Linked DNA regions of Homo sapiens: region 2 is linked to region 1. Evidence: fine-mapped expression QTL. A gene starts in region 1. The other region holds a variant in brackets. All regions are shown on one strand. Distances are from middle to middle.

Evidence for each region. PIP is the estimated chance that this variant, and not a neighbour inherited with it, causes the effect.
Region 2: its variant is fine-mapped to the expression of NPY in pancreas (GTEx, PIP above 0.99).

Annotation. Positions count from the first base shown.
Region 1 is chr7:24,278,680-24,288,787 of GRCh38, forward strand. NPY (neuropeptide Y) reads left to right here and starts at 5,511. Exons shown (of 4, transcript NM_000905.4): 1 at 5,511-5,596; 2 at 6,562-6,749. The coding sequence starts at 6,562. All of the region lies in intron 2 of LOC107986777 (a long non-coding RNA gene), which reads right to left. RefSeq lists an enhancer at 1-645.
Region 2 is chr7:24,363,248-24,373,355 of GRCh38, forward strand. The region is part of intron 1 of LOC107986777 (a long non-coding RNA gene); the gene reads right to left. Among named protein-coding and RNA genes, the nearest start is that of NPY, 84 kb to the left of the region's middle. The variant A/C (reference allele first, on the strand shown) is at 3,653.

The sequences.
Region 1 (10,108 bases):
CTCAAGCCTCAGCAATGGCAGATGCCCCTCCCCCAGCCAGGCTTGCCACCTTGTAGTTCGATATCAGACTGCTGTGCTAGCAGTGAGCAAAGCTCTGTGGGCATGGGACCTGCTGAGCCATGTGTGGGATATAATTTCCTGGTGTGCTGTTTGCTAAAACCGTGGGAACAGCACAGTATTTAGGTGGCAGTGTCCCAATTTTCCCGGTACAGTCAGTCATGGCTTCCCTTGGCTAGGAAAGGGAAATCCCCTGACTCCTTGCACTTCCTGGGTGAGGCGATGCCCACCCCTGCTTTGACTTGCCCTCCGTGGGCTGCACTCTTTGTCCGCCCAGTCCCAGTGAGATGAACCAGGTACCTCAGTTGGAAATGCAGAAATCACCCATCTTCTGCGTCGATCAGCTGGGAGGTGCAGACCAGAGCTGTTCCTATTTGGCCTCTTGGAACGGACCTAAAGAACACTCAGAAAATATTTCAAGGTAAACCCAGAAGGTTGTGTAGGTGTTGGCCAGGTAAAGAGTAGGGAGAGAGAATATCTCAGAGAGCAGACACAGCACAATGAAGGCCCAAATAGGAAAGCTGATTGGCATATTTAAGGAGCAGAAAGGAGGACAATGGACAGAAATACAGGGAGTGAAGAAAAAAATTATGTTAGATGAGCCTAGGAGGTATGTAGGGTCCAAAATATGTGGGGCCTTATAGTTCAATGGAAGAATTTTGAAAACATTTTACACTTCATATGATATTTAATTAGACATTCATGTTAGTGGAAGCTCCACTTTGATAATCTAAATTTGAGGCCCTTGATGGAGTTTTTCTGAGCTAGACGTATCGCCCTGGTTTCCAGGTATGAAATCTGAGCTGAAGGGAGAGATTTCAGGATCATAAGCTGTAGGAGTAGATGAGCTTATGTGTGCAGTAGAAAGGTTAAGGCTAAGACTATGGGTACAGAAGGGTGAGTCAGCAAAGGAGATGGTGGTACATTCAGAGAAAAAGGAGGTGAATCAGAGAGACAAGAGAAAGTAATGGTTAAGAGATGTCAAATATCTGATAAAGATCCATGTGGTTTGCAATTAGAAGGTCTTACTGATAGCAGGTTTATAACTTGATTCAGATAGAACCTAGATCACAGTGGTTTCATGACTACACCTATGGTGAATAACCAGAGACAATGAATAGAAACATCTTTTTAAAGAAGCCTTGCTACAAGACTTGCTCTTCTGGCCAAGATGAAGAAACAGGAACTGGATTTACCCTCCCTGCTGAAACAACTAAAACACTAGACAAAAATAGATGAAACAACACTTAAAACATTGGACATCAGTAAAGGACAGTAATATCTTAGAGATAGAAAACAAATGACAAGAGCCATACAATGGTCCCAGATCACTGCCTGATATGGTTTGGCTGTGTCCTCACCCAAATCCCATCTTGAATTGTAGTTTCCTTAATCCCCACGTGTTGTGGGAGGGACCTGGTGTGAGATAATTGAATCATGGGGGCAGTTACCTACATGCTGCTGTTCTCATGATAGTGAGTGAATTCTCACAAGATCTGATGGTTTTATAAAAGGTTTTTTCCCCTTTGCTCGCCACTTCTCTCTCCAGCTGCAATATGAAGAAGGACGTGTTTGCTTCCCCTTCCACCATAATTGTAAGTTTCCTGAGGGCTCTCCAGCCATACAGAACTGTGAGTCAATTAAACCTCTTTCCTTTATAAATTACCCAGTCTTGGATATTTCTTCATAGCAGCATGAGAATACACTGCCTGAAGGAGTCATCCAGGCTACAGTGCAGAAGGAAGGAATTGAATCATCCTGGCCAAGGAGCTGGGGCTGGAAGTGTAGGGAGCCAGGGCAGCTAGTGTCCACAGGAAGATTATCAGGTAAAAGAAAGAATACTCTGAAAGTCTGAAGGGTGTCCCCCTTGAGGATTTAGTTGATTATTGATCAGATTATACACAAGAACAAACCACCTGAGACCAGGAAAAGAACTACACAAAAAGATAAGGGTAAACTGTGTCTGATGCTGACCAAGGGCTGGGAATAGTGTCTATCTGAACAGCCAGAGGGGAGAGCTGTGCAATTTGAGGTGTGCGTGTTGGGGGGAAGTCAGTTACCAGTTAAAGTAAAAAGAAGGAATTTTGCCTCAAAGTGTGGAAAGAGTAAACCTAGTCTAAAACCAGCTCTGGTCCCACCTAACAAAACTCACATCCAAGACCTGAATGGATAAAACTGTCTTTAAATTTTTAATTGTCTCAGAACAAGCTCAAGAACAGTCATAGAAAGACAAAAAAACAAATAACAAGGTAAAATCCACAATATCTGACATCCTATCAAAAATTATCAGGCACACAAAGAAGAAGAAAAATATAAGCCATAATGTGGAGAAAAATCAATCAACCCAAAGTATACAAAAATCACACAGATGTTAGTAGTACAAAAGTTATTATTAATGTATATTCAAGAAGCTAGAGAGAAGAGTGGACACGTTTAGATACGGAAGATATAAAAAAGATTCATTGCTTTATATTGTCCTGTAACTTAAAAAAAAGATTCAAGTTGAAACTCTAGAGATGAAAGCTACCAGGTATAAGGTGCAAAATACACTGGATAGGATTGGCAGTAATCAGATATTACAGAAGAAAACATTAGTGAACTCACAGACATAGCAATAGAGACTATCCAAAATAAAATATGAAGGAAAAAATGAGCAAAACAGAAGCAAAAACAGATCACCAACAAACTGTGGGCCAATATACACTCACCGTCTGACTCAGCCATTCTGGTTTTAAGTATTTTCCAAGAGAATTAAAGGCTTTATGTCCATACAAAGACTTGCATATGAATGTCAAGGCAGCTTTATTCGTAAAAGTTTCAAGTGAAAATAACCAAAAATTCATGAGCAGTAGAATTGATTAAAAATTTTGAAGTATATCATATAATGAAATACTGCCCAGCAATAAAAAAGAATAAACTATTGCTACATTTAACAATGTGAGTGGATTCAAAAATAATGATGCTAAGTGAAAGAAGTCAGACAAAGAGTACCTACCGTGGAACTATATTTATGTGCAATTCTAGAAAACGCAAACAAATCTCTAGTGATAGCAGATCAATGGAGGAGGGGGTGAGGAAGAGGCAAAAGGAAGGAATTACAAAGGTACATGTGGAAATTTGGGGAAGTGATGTATAATCTTCATTTTCTTGGTTTCAGTGATGGCTTCCTGAGCATATAACACACATGCATATGTGTAAGAATATATCCAATTGAATATTTTACACATTTGTAGCTTTGTATATATTCAGCAGTATCTATTCATTCCTTCTGCTTCTTTACCTTAGGTTTAGTCATGAAACCACTGGGTTTCATGTGGTCCAGGTTCTATCTGAATCAAGCTATGAACCTGCTATCAGTAAGACCTCCTAATTGCAAACCACATGGACCTTTACCGGTTATTTGACTTCTCTCGGTCATTACCTTCTCTAGTCTCCACTGATTCACCTCCTTTTGAATCTCAACAAGCTCAACAGTATCTCAATGTTATCTTAACAAAGCTGTTAGAAATAAACAACTTGACTTTGAAACAAAGGAGAGAAATGGCTCAGCAGCTAGGAGAAGATGCAGGGTTGAGTTGCCAACAGTTGGTTTTGTTTGTATTTTGGCCAGGGGATGTGGCTTGGACTGGAGAGAAAGGAGATAAGGATGTAAGCACATGTAGGGCATATCACCCCCTATTTTTTATTCTCTGAATCCTTAACCCTCAGAATAAGTTCTTATTCTTGAGAATCAATGACATTATCTTAAGCTAAATTAATCAAGCCTCCACAGTGTTCTTCTCTCAATAGTGGTGTGGGCCTTCCTAGAAGTAATTTTTCCCAAATTCAGTGATACATTTTAAGTTCAGATTTTAATTGATATGAATCTGTGATACACTCTAAAATAAGATTATTTTATTGAAAAGTGGACTGTAACTTTCCCTTTATCTAGGAAGAGCTCTAAGTTAGAAGATGTTTTGCACTTTTACCGAAGGCTGTGTCTTGTAAGCACCCCCGAGCAACTCTGAGAGCCTTGATTTTTGTGTCCTCAGCATATGTTTGTGTAATACAGAAAGAGAAGCAGTTGCCAAGTGAAAGGGATGTTGGTCTCCAAAATTATAGTTTGATCCCACAAACACACAAACACATACATGCAAAGGATTGTTTGCTTCACGGTTTTTGATATTTAATTCAATGCTGTTGGAACAGCACAAAAACTAAGTGTCAGTTTAACAGAATCACTTGTCCTTTTAGCATTAAAATAACATGGAACTTAATGCTTTAATTTCCCAACATGCCTTTTTATTTAGAAAGATTCAGACTTATATTTCATTTAGAAATAAAATGCCATTTTATTTAGAAAGATACAGGAGCATTCATTCACGGAACTTTCAGATCTCAGTCCACTGCATAAAATCTTGATCCTGTAATAATAGTTTCTGTATCTTGCATATTCATTCAACAGGTTTAACGCGATGAGCAAATTAATGTTCATCGTTTTTAACATGTTTCATCTTAATCAGAACCCACATTCTCAACGTTAATTGAACGTACATAGGACTATACAAGGGTTAGTAAATAAGACAGAAACTGTTGTTCATTTAACCACCGTCACTTTGGACCAAAAAAGAAAAAATATATATTTTTAAAATTGAGCTTAAAAGAGTCTCTAGAAGCTGGAAGCGTGGCTCTTTTTCAGCAAACTGGGGGAATAGGTTTACCGTGTTCCCCCTCTGGGGAATTTTGAGTCGCCACACTCATGTCTCGACCGAGCCTGGCTCGCTGCGTCTGAGCGAGTACTTGAGGAAGGCTGATCTAGAAAAACCAGCTGAGAGAAGGGGCAGAAGCCCCTGAAACCACGGGCGGGGGTGGGGTGGGGAGCGCAGCTTTGGGACCCTCTAGCCGGAGACTTCCGGCAGCTGCCTCCGACTTGTTCTAAGTACAGGAAAAATCTGTGCGCCCAGTTGCCTCACTCCAACAGCGCGCAGTTGTGCCCGGCGAGGATGCCGCGCTAGTCGTGGAGATGCCCCACCACAAAGAGGATTCAGGTGCTTCCTACTCCGGCACCCAGTGGGTTGGTAGTCCTGTTGGCAGGAGACAAGAATCGTCTGGGCTGCTCCTATCTCTGGCAGGACTAGACGGGGCGTGAAGGAAAGAAGGAAAGAAGGAAAGCAGGGATCGGGCACTGCCCGAGGGCAGATACTTGGGCTTTGGTGTTGTCCAGCGCGCTCGGAGTGCGCTGCCTCGCTCACGCGGTCCCAGGCCCCGCTTCTTCAGGCAGTGCCTGGGGCGGGAGGGTTGGGGTGTGGGTGGCTCCCTAAGTCGACACTCGTGCGGCTGCGGTTCCAGCCCCCTCCCCCCGCCACTCAGGGGCGGGAAGTGGCGGGTGGGAGTCACCCAAGCGTGACTGCCCGAGGCCCCTCCTGCCGCGGCGAGGAAGCTCCATAAAAGCCCTGTCGCGACCCGCTCTCTGCACCCCATCCGCTGGCTCTCACCCCTCGGAGACGCTCGCCCGACAGCATAGTACTTGCCGCCCAGCCACGCCCGCGCGCCAGCCACCGTGAGTGCTACGACCCGTCTGTCTAGGGGTGGGAGCGAACGGGGCGCCCGCGAACTTGCTAGAGACGCAGCCTCCCGCTCTGTGGAGCCCTGGGGCCCTGGGATGATCGCGCTCCACTCCCCAGCGGACTATGCCGGCTCCGCGCCCCGACGCGGACCAGCCCTCTTGGCGGCTAAATTCCACTTGTTCCTCTGCTCCCCTCTGATTGTCCACGGCCCTTCTCCCGGGCCCTTCCCGCTGGGCGGTTCTTCTGAGTTACCTTTTAGCAGATATGGAGGGAGAACCCGGGACCGCTATCCCAAGGCAGCTGGCGGTCTCCCTGCGGGTCGCCGCCTTGAGGCCCAGGAAGCGGTGCGCGGTAGGAAGGTTTCCCCGGCAGCGCCATCGAGTGAGGAATCCCTGGAGCTCTAGAGCCCCGCGCCCTGCCACCTCCCTGGATTCTTGGGCTCCAAATCTCTTTGGAGCAATTCTGGCCCAGGGAGCAATTCTCTTTCCCCTTCCCCACCGCAGTCGTCACCCCGAGGTGATCTCTGCTGTCAGCGTTGATCCCCTGAAGCTAGGCAGACCAGAAGTAACAGAGAAGAAACTTTTCTTCCCAGACAAGAGTTTGGGCAAGAAGGGAGAAAAGTGACCCAGCAGGAAGAACTTCCAATTCGGTTTTGAATGCTAAACTGGCGGGGCCCCCACCTTGCACTCTCGCCGCGCGCTTCTTGGTCCCTGAGACTTCGAACGAAGTTGCGCGAAGTTTTCAGGTGGAGCAGAGGGGCAGGTCCCGACCGGACGGCGCCCGGAGCCCGCAAGGTGGTGCTAGCCACTCCTGGGTTCTCTCTGCGGGACTGGGACGAGAGCGGATTGGGGGTCGCGTGTGGTAGCAGGAGGAGGAGCGCGGGGGGCAGAGGAGGGAGGTGCTGCGCGTGGGTGCTCTGAATCCCCAAGCCCGTCCGTTGAGCCTTCTGTGCCTGCAGATGCTAGGTAACAAGCGACTGGGGCTGTCCGGACTGACCCTCGCCCTGTCCCTGCTCGTGTGCCTGGGTGCGCTGGCCGAGGCGTACCCCTCCAAGCCGGACAACCCGGGCGAGGACGCACCAGCGGAGGACATGGCCAGATACTACTCGGCGCTGCGACACTACATCAACCTCATCACCAGGCAGAGGTGGGTGGGACCGCGGGACCGATTCCGGGAGCGCCAGTGCCTGCACACCAGGAGATCCTGGGGATGTTAGGGAAAGGGATTGTTTCTTTTCCTTCGCTCTATCCCAGGGCAGGACAGTATCAGGCACTTAGTCAGCTCTAGGTAAATGTTTGTACAGGGCACACTCTACACAAAATGGGTACCTTCCATTTTGTGCAACTACAGTCACAGAGTCGTGATCCCCAGATTCAGGTTCCCCAGGCTGGTAGGCTGGCAATCTCCTCTCACTCACCTCTTATGGTTTGTTGTGGTTCTTACGGCAGTGGGGCCCGGTCCAGAAATCTCGAAAGTACCCAGTGAAAGGGGCAAGAATGCGCCAGAGAAATGCTGTAGGGGGAAACGCTAGCAAGGTGTCTAGGAGAAACAGAACGACCACCAAAGAAAACCAAACCAAGGAGTAAACTGCAGGGTTGCCACAGACATTGTCAGACTTTCCGGCCTGCCCAGGGCTAATTGAATGACAGTATTTAGAAAAAGACAAATAGAGCTATTTTCTTTTCTTCTTCACTGTGTTTTTTTTGCAGTCTCACTCCCATATTTGAAAATTCTAGTCCCAATAATTAGAGATTTAGCCTGAAAACAGTTTATCTAAAATGCAGAGGTCTCCCTATTTTATAGCTGGTGAATTCTGAAAAGAAAGTGCCCACTTGGTATTTCATTAAGAAGAAACTTACGTTGGTCCAGTAACTTTAGGATGAATTCAGGGATTACATGGAATCTGAGAAATTGTAAACTTTATTCTGAACATTCCGAAAGTCAAAATGAAATGCCATATTTTCACTCTCAACATTGACAATTAAGGGAAAAATCAAATCCAAACTATTTTACAAATTACATAGGATTTAAATTTTGTTTTCAAAATTGGTTGATCTTAGTTCTAAATCATTTAATATCTTATTTTAATTACTGAGATTAAATGATTTTAGTCATTTGACCGTATCTAAAGGATAAGCCCTTTAGAAGCATTAATGTTAGTTAACATGTTTAAATTATATGTTTAAAGTATTGTGGGGTTTATATATTTATTTATTTAGTCCATATTTTTACTGTTTACAAGTCAGGGAGTAGTTGGAAAGGATCCAAAAGGGGGGAAGATTTATACTTTTAAAATAAAGTTTGCTTTTTCCTGTTTCATCAAAAAGGTATTTAACATCCTAAAACACTTTTGAAAAAGCCCCAATTTATATAGAATCTGAAAAACATGAAAATGCCAGAATTAAATAGTAGTTGTTTGTGATCCCTTGAAATCTGATCATTTTAATTAGCAAAAAGCAATAATATTTTATATTCCATACTTCCCAGAAAGTTAATTGATTCAAATTCTTGCTATGTTATGCCGTCATGCAGATCAAAGAGAACTTGTACAAACAAAAAGATATTAACTGTTTTTTCTAGAAAAACCTTTGTTAGTTATTTAGCTGTAGCATAATACACAGTAGAACTCATTTTTCCGAAGATGATTGCCATAAAGCTTTACCATTTTACAAAGCTCTAGCATTTTAAAATGTTTTCCTAGGCATTCTCTCATTCAGTCGTTACCTCAAAGCTTTGAAGGGAGTATAATTATCTTCATTTCACAAATCATGAAGCTAATGACATTTCATGGAAGCTATTTTTATAGGAATTATGGAATTGGAGCCCTCCTTTGAGTGTCTTTGGATGTTGTCACCACCATCAACAGGCAGTGTTATCTCCAACATGTTTGATGAGAAAAAAACATAAAGGAAAGGGACTTGGGTTTCATGGCAAGAGATTCAGCTTAGATGGGAATGAGCTGGTCTCTGAGGCAGAGTTTCCTGTCTCATCTTTGTATAAACTCCTTCTTAGAAACCAGCAGAGGCTCTTAATGTACGTCCATCTTCTCCTTCCCACCACAGACACCCACTCCTATGTGCGTTTCTGAAAATTACAGGGTCATTTGTGGATGTGCTTTAATTTAGTATAGATATAATCTGATATCATTATCTTTCTTTCCCCCCGCCCCCCGCCACCAGCATTCCCCCTGCACTCAATTTGTGCTTATATTCCTTTTGCTGTATATATACCCCTGGCTCATTGCTTCTGGAAGCTGCATTACTTATTCTAGAGTGTGGGTCTCCTACAATTTATTTATATAGCCCCCTAAATCAGTGGTTCTCAACTGGGGGTGATTTTATGCTCCCCAGGTGTGATTTGGCAGTGTCTGGAGACATTTTTGGTTTTCACAACTGGAGGTGGGCACTGCTGGTACCTAGGTGTATAGATGCCAAGGAGGCTGCTAAATATCCTACCATGCCCAGGACAGCCCCCATTACACAGAATAGCCAGTCCCAGAGAAACTCAGCCTTAGATTAGTGTTTCTCCTTCCTGGCTGCACATTAAAATTATCAGGGGAGCTTTTAAAATACACTGATGCTGGGATCCACCCCTGACCAATTAAATCAGACCCTCTGGGATGGGGCCTGGGCTTTAGAGTGTGTTTTTAACACTCCCCAGGTGATTCTAATGTGCAGCCAGGTTTGAGAATCTTTACTCTAAGGACTCAATCTTTGAAAGTTACAGCATTGTAGAGGGGAAGGATGATCCAGAATTAATTAAAGAAGGAAGAAGAGTGAACAGTACTGAACTGGATGCAAGATTATGACTGTGCAAATCCTCCTATTTCAGATTTAGGTTCTTTACTGGTAAATTGGATAAAAAGTTGGCAGTTCTTTTACTCACTGGAGCATGATGAAGATAAATGAGTTACAGTTGCCCTAGACTTTTACGATTAGTAAAACCAATGGATGGACAGAATAAATAAGTATAAGCAGACACCTATAGTCTAATATCGCAACTCCAGAAAATCTTTGAGAAAATCTCACACATGATGGGAGTGGGACAGGGAGTTGTTTTGTTTTTGCTTCCCTTGAGTCTCAGCAAAAGAACAGTCATAGAAAATATTTCCAAAAAATTTAGATATAATTTTGCTTGGCAATTAGAATATACCCTCTGTCAGCTTTGTTCAGTTGTTGGACCTATTAACCAATCCATACCAGACTAATTTATTTCTAAACAAAGTGGCGAATGGTGTCCAATGCCTTTTCTGAGAAAGAGAAAAATGGCCTCTTCAAAAGACGCAATTTGGTATAGACTTGTCTGGCCGTTTTGTAGTGTTCTGGAGTGGGGAGCATATACTACCCTCACAGGTAAACGAAACCTTACCTGTATGTATTGTCTCACCCATATCCTGCTACAGGAGAAAAAAAAAAAAAAAAAAAAAAGAACATTTCCATGGATCAGTTAGATTCCTTTAGACTTACAGGGAGGCTAAAATCACAGCATTAGGAAAGACTTTAGCA
Region 2 (10,108 bases), 85 kb after region 1:
GAAAGGGATCTTAAAAATCTTCTGTTATGATTGTAGATTTATTTCTCCCTTTATTTCTGTCAGTTTTTGCTTCATGTATTTTGAAACTCTGTTATTAGTTGCATACATGTTTAGGATTATTATGTCTTCTTAATGGGTTGATTCTTTTATCATTATGAGATATCTCCTTTATCCCTAATGATACTTTTTGCTTTAAAGTCTCTTTGTCTGATATTAATATAGCTATTTCTGCTTCCTTACAACTAGTTTTATGTTTCTTAAGTTCTTATATATTTAACTTACTTGTGTCTTTTTATTTAAAGCATACGTGTTGTAAATAGCCTATGTCTGGCTCTTGCCCTTTTATCTAGTCTGAAGATATCTGCCTTCATGTAATTAGTAATACAATTGAATTAAGACTACCTTCTTTTATTTTTTCTCCATTTATGATATCTGGGTTTTGTCCCTTTTATCCTTTTTTACTGCCTTTTTCTGTGTTAATTATTTTTATTGTTTTACTTTATTTCCTCTATTAACATTTTAGTTGTGCTTCATTTAAAGTTTTTTTTATTGGGTCCTCTGAGATTACAATAAGCTCTACTAACTTAATGCAGTCTACCTTGAAAAAATATTAGACTACTTCATGTATAAGAAACCTACAACAGTATGCTTTCACTTGCCCTCTTCTGTCCCTGGTACAGTTATTGACATACATTTTACTCCTACATTTTACAAACTCCATGATACATTTTTATCATTTTGCTTTAAACAAGTATTTCTTAAAGAGATTAAGAAGTGAGGGAGAGAAGTCTTTTCTTTTCCCTTTTTTGAGAAAGGATCTGGCTCTGTCACCCACGCTAGGGTACGGTAGTGCAATCTCAGCTCACTGAAACCTCCACCTCCCAGGTTCAAGCCATCCTTCCACCCAGCCTCCAGAATAACAGGGACTACAGGTACATGCCGCCACACCCAGCTAATTTTTGTATTTTTTGTAGAGATAGGGTTTTGCCAGGTTGCCCAGGCTGGTCTCGAACTCCTGAGCCCAAGCAATCCACCCACCTTGGCCTCCCCAAGTGTTGGGATTACAGGCATGAGCCACTGCACCTGGCCAGAGAGAAGTCTTTTATATTTATTCACATATTAACAATTAAAAGTACTCTTCATTTCTCTGTATAGGTATGAGTGTCCATCTGGTATCATTTTCCTTTGTTTTCCTGAAGGACATTTTGATTTAGCAATCTAATGAAGGCATTACAGATGAAGGCATTACAATTATAAGTCAAACAATTTACAATGGTTCGACTTATAATTTTTTTGACTTAATGCTGGTGCAAAAGCAATATGTTGAACAGAAGCCATATTCAAATTTTGAATTTTGAACTTTTCCTGGGATAGCAATATGCAGTAGAATATTCTCTCTGGTTGCTGGGCAGTGGCAGTGAGCTGCAGCTCCCAGTCAACCACGCAATCACAAAGCTCAACAACCAATATTTCACAGTGTGCTGTGTTGCAGATGATGTTGCCCAATTGTAGGTTAATGTTATTTTCTGAGCATGTTTAAGATAGATTAGGCTAAGCTATCATGTTCAGCAGGTTAGATGTATTAAATGCATTTAGTTTTTCAATATTTCCAACTTAGGATGGGTTTATTAGGATGCAACCCCATGATAAGTTTCAGACCATCTACATTGTGATTCCCTTTTCTTCCTCCTATCTCCTGTCTCACCTCATATCCATTGAGCTCCCTCCCACCTCCTCCAGTCCTCCATCTTTCCAAGTTCTTTAACATTTCTCATAGTACAATTCCCAGAGTGACAAATTCTCTCAGCTTTTATTTATCAGAAAATAGCTTTATTTTTGCCTTAATTTTTTGGTGGATACATTTGCTGGATCTAAAACTTAGGTTGACTTTTTTTTTTTTGGCAGTATTTCAAAGATGTTGTTCCATCTTCTAACTTGCCTTGTTTCTTATAAGAAGACATGTTAATCTTATCATTGTTCCTTCAAATGCAATGTGTCTTTTTTTGGTGCTTTTACTATTTTCTCTTTTTTATTTATGGCAATTTGACTGTAATGTGCTTAGGTATGATTTTCTTTGTATTTATCTTGCTTGCGGTTTGTTTGAGCTGTTTGAATGTAAATTAATATTTTTCTTTAAATTTGGAAAGTTTTAGAGCATCATTTATCCAAATATCTCTCTTCTCCTTCTGGATTCCAATTACACATGTGAGACTGCTTGACAATGTCCTACAAGTCAGTAAGTTTCTCTTCCATTTTTTCAGGGTTATCTCTCTCTGTGTGTTTTAGTTTAGCCAGTTTCTATTGTTTTTCTCTTGTGCAGTGTTCAATCTGTCCTTAAGAGCACTGTTTGACCTTTGAAATCTCTGTTCAGCTTACAGCTCCCCAGAAGCTACTCTCAGCCCAGCCATCAGCCTTACCCTTTGCATGTGTACCTTAATATTTGGCCGAAGACTGAAGAGAACTCCTATGCAGATTTTTGGAGTTTCTTCTGGGTATAATTCCTTCCTTTCTGGCATTCTGCCCTGTGAAATTGCAGCTGCTTTAGCACCCCCAAACATGGATCTCTGCCTACTCATCTCAGTGAGACTGCTATGCTGTGCCTGTGCCCTACTTCCCTACACTGTGTTCCAGAAAGTGCATCCACACAGAAGCCAAGGTGCTTCTCTTCTTTCAAGGATCAGTTTTGCTCTGCCTTTTATCCAATGTCTGAAAGCCATTGTTTCATACATTTTTGCAGTTATACAGTTGTTTACTGTAAGAGAACTAATCCAGTACCAACGACTCTGGTTGCCCCAGAATAAATTCCAAACTCCTTGCCCTTGTTTATAAGGCCCTATACAATCTGGCCTGCCTACTTCTCTGAGTTCACCCTGGCCTCCTTTCCCCTCCCGAGACAACCAAAATACTTCCCACTTTAGAGCTTTTGCACTCCTATGCCTTGTGTCGGGCATGCTGTGTCTCTGACCTTCACATGATGGCCTCTTGCTTACCATTCGAGACCATCCGAATTAAAGTATCCACTCAGTCATTGTCTCAGAAATCTGTTTTAATTATTTGCAGAATGCATATCACATTCTAATATTTTTGGTTTTGTTTGTATATTTAATTTATTTTCTCTTGGCTTATTTTCTGTCTTCCTTCATTAGAACAAAGTGTCCATGAGGGACCTCTTCTGTTTGGTTTACTGTGGTATCTTTAATGCTGGGACTATGTCCAGCACATGGGAGCACTTGATAAATATTTCTTGGGTAAATGGATAAATGAATAAAACCTATTTTGCTTTTATGTTGCTTCATATGTTTCCTTTAAAATACCACACTTCAGTGGGCATGTTCAACTTTACATAACATACAGATAATGGTGAGAAAGAAGATAATAATAATTCCTAATATTTATTGAGCTCTTTTACCATGTGTTAGTCACTGAACTAGAAGATTTCCTTCTATTATCTCAATTAATCCTCATTACAATGCTATGAGGTACCTGCTAGGATTTTCAGCATTGCAGATAAGAAAACTAGGGCACAGAAATTCAGTGACTTTCTGAGTTTCTCACATCTAAAGTAATGGTTTTACCCACACCCCAGAGCTGATTTTTCAGCCAGATTTTCCAGAGTTGCTTTTGTCCAGGCTCTGCTGTTCATTTCCACATG[A/C]CAGGAGATGGGTATATCCTGCCTTTGAGACATGCTCAGGTCATGCTGGTCTCTAGCTCGGAAACATCATGTACCACATCTGTCACCCATTACTCTTCCTTGCCAAAATAGTCCATATTGTGCTGTTGTATCCAACCCCCATGTTTCTACTGTAGCAAAAATATGCTTAACCAGCTGCTGCTAACACTTCATAATGCTCGTGACAACTCTACTGAGAAGCCCCTCTTCATGGAGCAGATGGTGTGAAATCAAGCAGGCAAGCGGAAATGTAGCGGAAGAGCCTGGGGAGGAGGTTCTGGTCAGGGGAGGCACTGCCTCTTTTGTTTTGTTTTTTTTTTAGACTTGAATCTAAAGTAGGTCCTATTCACATCCCTATGAACATGTCCCAAAGTCAGTGTAAGAGCTGGGATACGGTGTTAAAGGAGAGACATTTGGAGAGCGGGAAAATAGAAACATTGTACAGAAGTGACTGATGAAACCACAGGAATGAATATGTTTCTCCAAAAAGCAAATGTAGGTGGAGCACAACAGAAGGCACTGAGCAGAGTTAGGGATTCGGGGGAAAACCCGAAGGGAGGATAATTGTCCCAGAAGAGTAAATGGCATATGTTAATAATCACACTATTAAGAGATGTCATTTTGAATAATGTAAAGAGAAAAACTTCGAAGTCAAACAGACGGGGATTCAACCCCAGATCCACTGCTTGCAAGCTGTAAGGCCCCAGGCAAGTTCCTTACCCTCTCTGGGTTTAAATTATTATCCTTTGGATAATAAATCCTACCATAAGATTTATAAGAGGGAGGTTTGGGATAGAGGCTGGTTGCCTAGGGGGACAACATGTACAACAAAGCCAGTGAAAAGTCCTCCCACAAACCCCAAACTATGAGTGGGTAAAGACCAACCTCCAACACTCACAAACCCTGCAGCGTGTTGGAGGTGGTGCAGAGGCCATGGGGAGGAGGGAAAGAAGGAAATATCAGTGTGTCTGACAGACTTCAGAATAGGAGACACCCCAAAGAAGCAAAAAGTATTCCACTGGAAGGCACAGCAGACCAACTGGAGAAGAGCAGCTACAATTGCTACAATTGGGAGTGACTGCAGTAAGGGTGAGTGCAAGGGATCCAGGGTAAGAAGTTCTGCAGGATTCGAGCAAGGGATGCCCTCTTTTTCTCCTTGGTTGGCAGGACATTTAGAGTCTCAGGGAATCTAATATGCTAAGGGTTATATGAAATGCATGTTGCAAGAAACATTCCAAATTTCTCAGTTAAATTCATAAAAAAATTTGGATGTTTATGAAATCAGGGTGTAAAAATATTGATTTAATTTCCTTTGAGACCAAGTATCAAGTCTCCTGGCTACAAAACTATCCACACTGAAAATGTCCGGGATTCCATGAATGTGGAATGAGTTTGCAAAGCCATCTACATTGCCCTTGACCAAGAGTTGTAATCTCTTGCAACACTGGCCACTGCCAACTCATGGTCACTCATTCTGGCAGTTTCGAGCTTGCTTACTCCAGAAGGAAGAAAAATTATGACATTAAAAAATTTATCTGATCCAAGTGCCTACTTGCCTCTGGTAGTTTGTAGACAAACTAGGTTGGTGCTATTTGGGAATAATTTACATTATTAATGACACTTGAAAGCAAGATATCTTAGGCACAAACTTTCTTTGCCTCACTTTTGCCACAAGCTCCATAAAAAAATGGGAAGGGTTGCAACTTTATTTAGGGTGTTTTGGGAAAGCTTCACTGAAAGGGGACATTTGGGAAGACATAGGAAGGAGGTGAAGGAGTGAGCCATGAGGAAGAAACATTCCAGACAGGAGGATTCCTGATGCGTTCAAGGAACAGCCAGGTGATCAATGTGACTGGAGCAGAGCGATCAAAGGTCACAGAGACCACAGGGAGCTGGGCAGTGGGGCCTTATAAGGATTCAGGCTCTTACTTTAAGTGGCTGTGACACCATTTGGAGGGTTTTGAGAAAAATGACATAATCTGACTAATGTTTTAAATAAATCACTCTTGCTACTGTATTTGTGAGAGTTACTGATTAGACTGTGGGTGGCAAGATTAGAAGCAAGGAAATCAGGCCAAATTTTTGTATTTTTCTGTAGAGACAGGGTTTCACCATGTTGCCCAGGCTGTTCTTGAATTCCTGGGCTCCAGGGACCCTCCTGCCTCAGCCTCCCAAAGTGCCGGGATTATAGGCAGAAGCCACTGCACCCAGCATCCCCTTATTCCTATGGAAGCAAAGAAATCAGTAGAAAACTGCTGCAGCTATGAAGAAGAGAGACAAGGGCTGCCCATGGCCAACACTCCACTTGTGCCCTCCTTCCCAATCCCTCTCTTCTATTCAAGCACATCACCTCAGCAATTCTTTCTTCTTTTACTTGCATTATGACTTTCCTTTTCTATTCTAGATTATTTCCCTTCACATATAGGATTGTTGCTCCATGGCATTAGGCTCTTCTTGTATTGCTATAAAGAAATACCTGACACTGGTTATAAGAAAAAGAGGATTAGTTGGCTCAGAGTTCTGCAATCTTTATAGGAAGTATGGTGCGGGCATCTGCTTGGCTTCTAGGGAGGCCTCAGGAAGCTTATGATCATGGCAGAGGTAAAGGGGGAGCAGGCATGTCATATGGCAGAAGCAGGAACAAGAGAGAGAGAGTGGGGTAGGGAAGTGACACATACTTTTAAATGACCAGATCTCATGAGAACTCATTATCACAAGGACAGCACCACACCATGAAGGATCCACACCCGTGACCCAAACACCTCCCACCAGGCCCACATCCAACATCAGGGATTGCAATTCAACATGAGATTTGGGAGAAGAAAACTATCCAAACTATATCACCCATATTAAACATATGTACACACATACACGCATACATACACATTCCCACTCAACCCACTTATGCCTCCAGCTACTGCTCAATTTCTTTGCTTTTTGTTTGCTTGATTTTTTTTTTTTTTTTTTGAGATAATGTCTCACCCTGTTGCCTATGCTTAGTGTAGTGGTGTGACTGTGGCTCACTGCAGCTTCAGCCTCCCAGGCTCAAGCAATCCTCTCACCTCAGCCTCCTGAGTAGCTGGTACCACACGCACAGACAACCATGCCTGGCTAATTCCTTTGTACTTTTTGTAGAAGGTGTTTCTGGATGAGATTAACATTTGAATCCATAGACTGAGAAAGGCAGATCACCCTCCCTAATGTGGGTGGGCCTCATCCAATCAACCGAAGGCCTGAATAGAGCAAAAACTCTTAGTAAGAAGGAATTCCACCTGCCTGACTTTTGAGCTGAGACATTGGTGTTCTTCTGCTCTCCGCCTGGAACTTATGCAGTCAGCTCTCCTGGGTCTTCGGCTTGCCAACAGCAGATCTTGGAACTTCTCAGCTTCCATAATTGTGTGAGCCAGTCCTTAAAATAAATCTCTCCTTTCTCTCTCTCTCTCCCTCTCTCAATAAATAAATAAATATATATATACATATATAATTATATATATATAATTTTGTATATATATTAATTTTTTTGTTAGGCAGGTAGATGTGGTTCTGGGAACGTTTACAAGTTCTTTCAGAATGCTTCCATTTTCTCAGTGGAATACGAAGCAATGTCATTCACTAGCTGAGAGAGAGAAGTAGGGATATATATATATATATTTAGAGAGAGAGAGATCTTTATATATATATACACACACACACAGATCTATATACACACACACACACACATACTGATACACACACACATACAGGAGTATGTATTATATATCACCTATTGGTTCTGTTTCTCTGGAGAACCCTGACTAATACAGAGAACCCTCACATGGCTCATCGTGTCTCTGCTGCCTCGCAGGGGATACCCTGTGGGTGGACTCCTAAAGGGCAGGAAACAGAAGAACTCGGAACACTCTCCACCCCCTAATAGAGTGTGTTCCTCTGTGCTGCCGCCTTTAGTGGGGAATTAATGAGCTGGAGGAGGTGGGTGCTGCTTTCACTTCATGGATTATGCGCCCCTATAGGATGTGTCATCTCACCTCCCTCACCCTGAAGACCACAGGTGGACCCTTCCCCAGTCATACCATGGGCAGTCCTCCTGATTTTGTGTGTCCTTGAACTAAGAATGCCTTGTATATTTTTAAACAATTGGGAAAAAATGAAAAGACATAAAATATGTTGTGACATGGGAAAACTGTATGCAATTCGAAATTGTGTCCACAGAGTTTTATTGGAACACAGCCACAGCTATTTGCTTAGGTAGTCTCTGTTGCTGCTTTCATGGGCAGAATGGAGTAGTTGCAACAGGGACCATCTAAAATAGTTACTAGCTGGCTCTTCACAGAAAAATTTTTCTAACTTTTACCCTCTGTCATGGGGCTCCATCTCAGCCCAGAAGTACTGTCAGGAGCCAAAGTCTCTGGGCCCAGTTGGGTCAGGCCTGGAAGCTATAGCCGCTTTGACTCCTGTCCAAAGGCCAAATCAGAGCCCAATGTCTGGGGCTCTTCACTGAGTGGGTTCTGGAGGAGGGTTATTGGGTAGGGCAAAACAAATGTGGGTGCTTCATACACTGAGTTCAATACAACATCTATAAAGTTATGGAGAGTTAGCTCCAGAAAGGACTTTAAAGATCTCATAGTTCATTTTACTTATGAGGAAAACCAAGGTCGATAGAGAAAAAGTCATTTTAAAAAGTCATTTCCCAAGGCCACACAGCTGACACTGGATTAGAACCCACATTTTTCTTACTTCCTGTTAATACTCCCATGCTCTTCCCACAGCCCCTGCTCCATCATCTTTCTGATACTTCTGGAATCAGAGCCTATTCCTTCAAACCTTTCAGTGAGCAATGTCCCTTCTTGCAAAGTTCGCTATCAGTTGTGATATGGGAATCCAGGGCCTATGAAGCACATGTGTCTCTAAATTGGGAATTTCTCGTATCTGACATTAGGATGTTGTCTCATCAGTAAGACCAGGAAATGTCTAAAGGCACCATCCTGCAATTGTCTGGAACTCCTTGCTAGGCATAAGGGCATAGAGTAGCTTTTGCCATTCAGAAGTTGTTCTCTGCCTTCAGATTCCAAGACCATTCTAGCGACAGCCTTTCAAACATGACCATGTATCTAATTAATAATATGGATTTTCTGTTGTAAGTTAAAGCCCAAATATAGCTTCAAAATTTGCTTGGCCAGGCACATTTAATAATACCTAAATGCCCCCATGTGTTAAATATTCATCCATTTTTTTCCATAACTGCTTACAATAAATATTGATGATCGTCTAACTTTGAAAATGGCTATGTACATGGAAGAATATTCATGTGTGTCTCACTGATTTTCCTGACAGCGCCAAATGGAGCAGGTAAGCCAATTTAACACAACCAATTTCCACTTTTGCGCAGACCAAATAGGAGAAGTTCTGTGGAAATGAATAATCAATCTCATACCATTATTAATAATAATATTTAGCTTACATACAGCTCTTTCCATCTTCTAAGCACTTCGGCAACATTAACAAATTTATTGTTAATACTCAAGGGAGGCCTTTTTGTAATGGGAATGAGAAACCAAAAGGGATGTAAATGGCCACTTAGGGCTGAGGGACAAGTGCAAAGCAGGAGAAACTGGTGAGTCCCTGTTCCCATGGGATTCCCTAAGCTCTTCAATATTGCGGAAGTGTTGCAAGCCTAGGAGGCAAGTCTAATTTTTAAATCTTAGTTTTAAAAGGTGTGTGCTGACCATAATAGAACTACATTTATTACTATTTTTTGAACACCCACTTTAGGCCAAACACTGCTAAGTGTTGGGAACATTAAAAGAAAACAGCTTCTATCCTGAAGAAACTTACAGAATAGTGAGGGAGAGGGAGACCTGAATCCCCCAACAGCCTGCAGTGGGATGAAGGCCCATCTGAGAGACACACAGAGAGGCACAGCTGCACCGAGGAGCACCCAGCACCCCATGAACACCTTCCCTGAGAAGGTGTTGCTCCAGCCGAGCCCTACAAGGCAGCTGAATTAGGAAGGGGGATTTGAGCAGGAGAGACATTCTAGAGAAAAGGAAAAACATGAAGCAAAGGCAGTATGGAAGAGAATTGTGTCTTCTGGGAACTATAAACACTTTAGCTGGACTGGAGTGAAGAATAAGACAATGAGATGCAGCCATTACAGCTGAGCAAAATCCTAAAGATGTCTCCAGTAATATCTCCCATCCCACATGCTCTTCTACAATGGGAGCTTGCCACCCTCCCCCATCTAGAGGCGGGGTTACATCCCCTCCACTTGAATCTGAGCAGGTTTATGACTGCTTTACAAATGCAGCAGAAGGAAGCGATGCTATGTGACTGCTGAAGCTAGGTCAAACGAAGCACTTTTCTGACTCTTGGAACACTGAACCGCCAGCTGAGAAGTCCAGCTGGCCTGAGGCCACCGTGCTGGTACTCAGGCCACCAGGC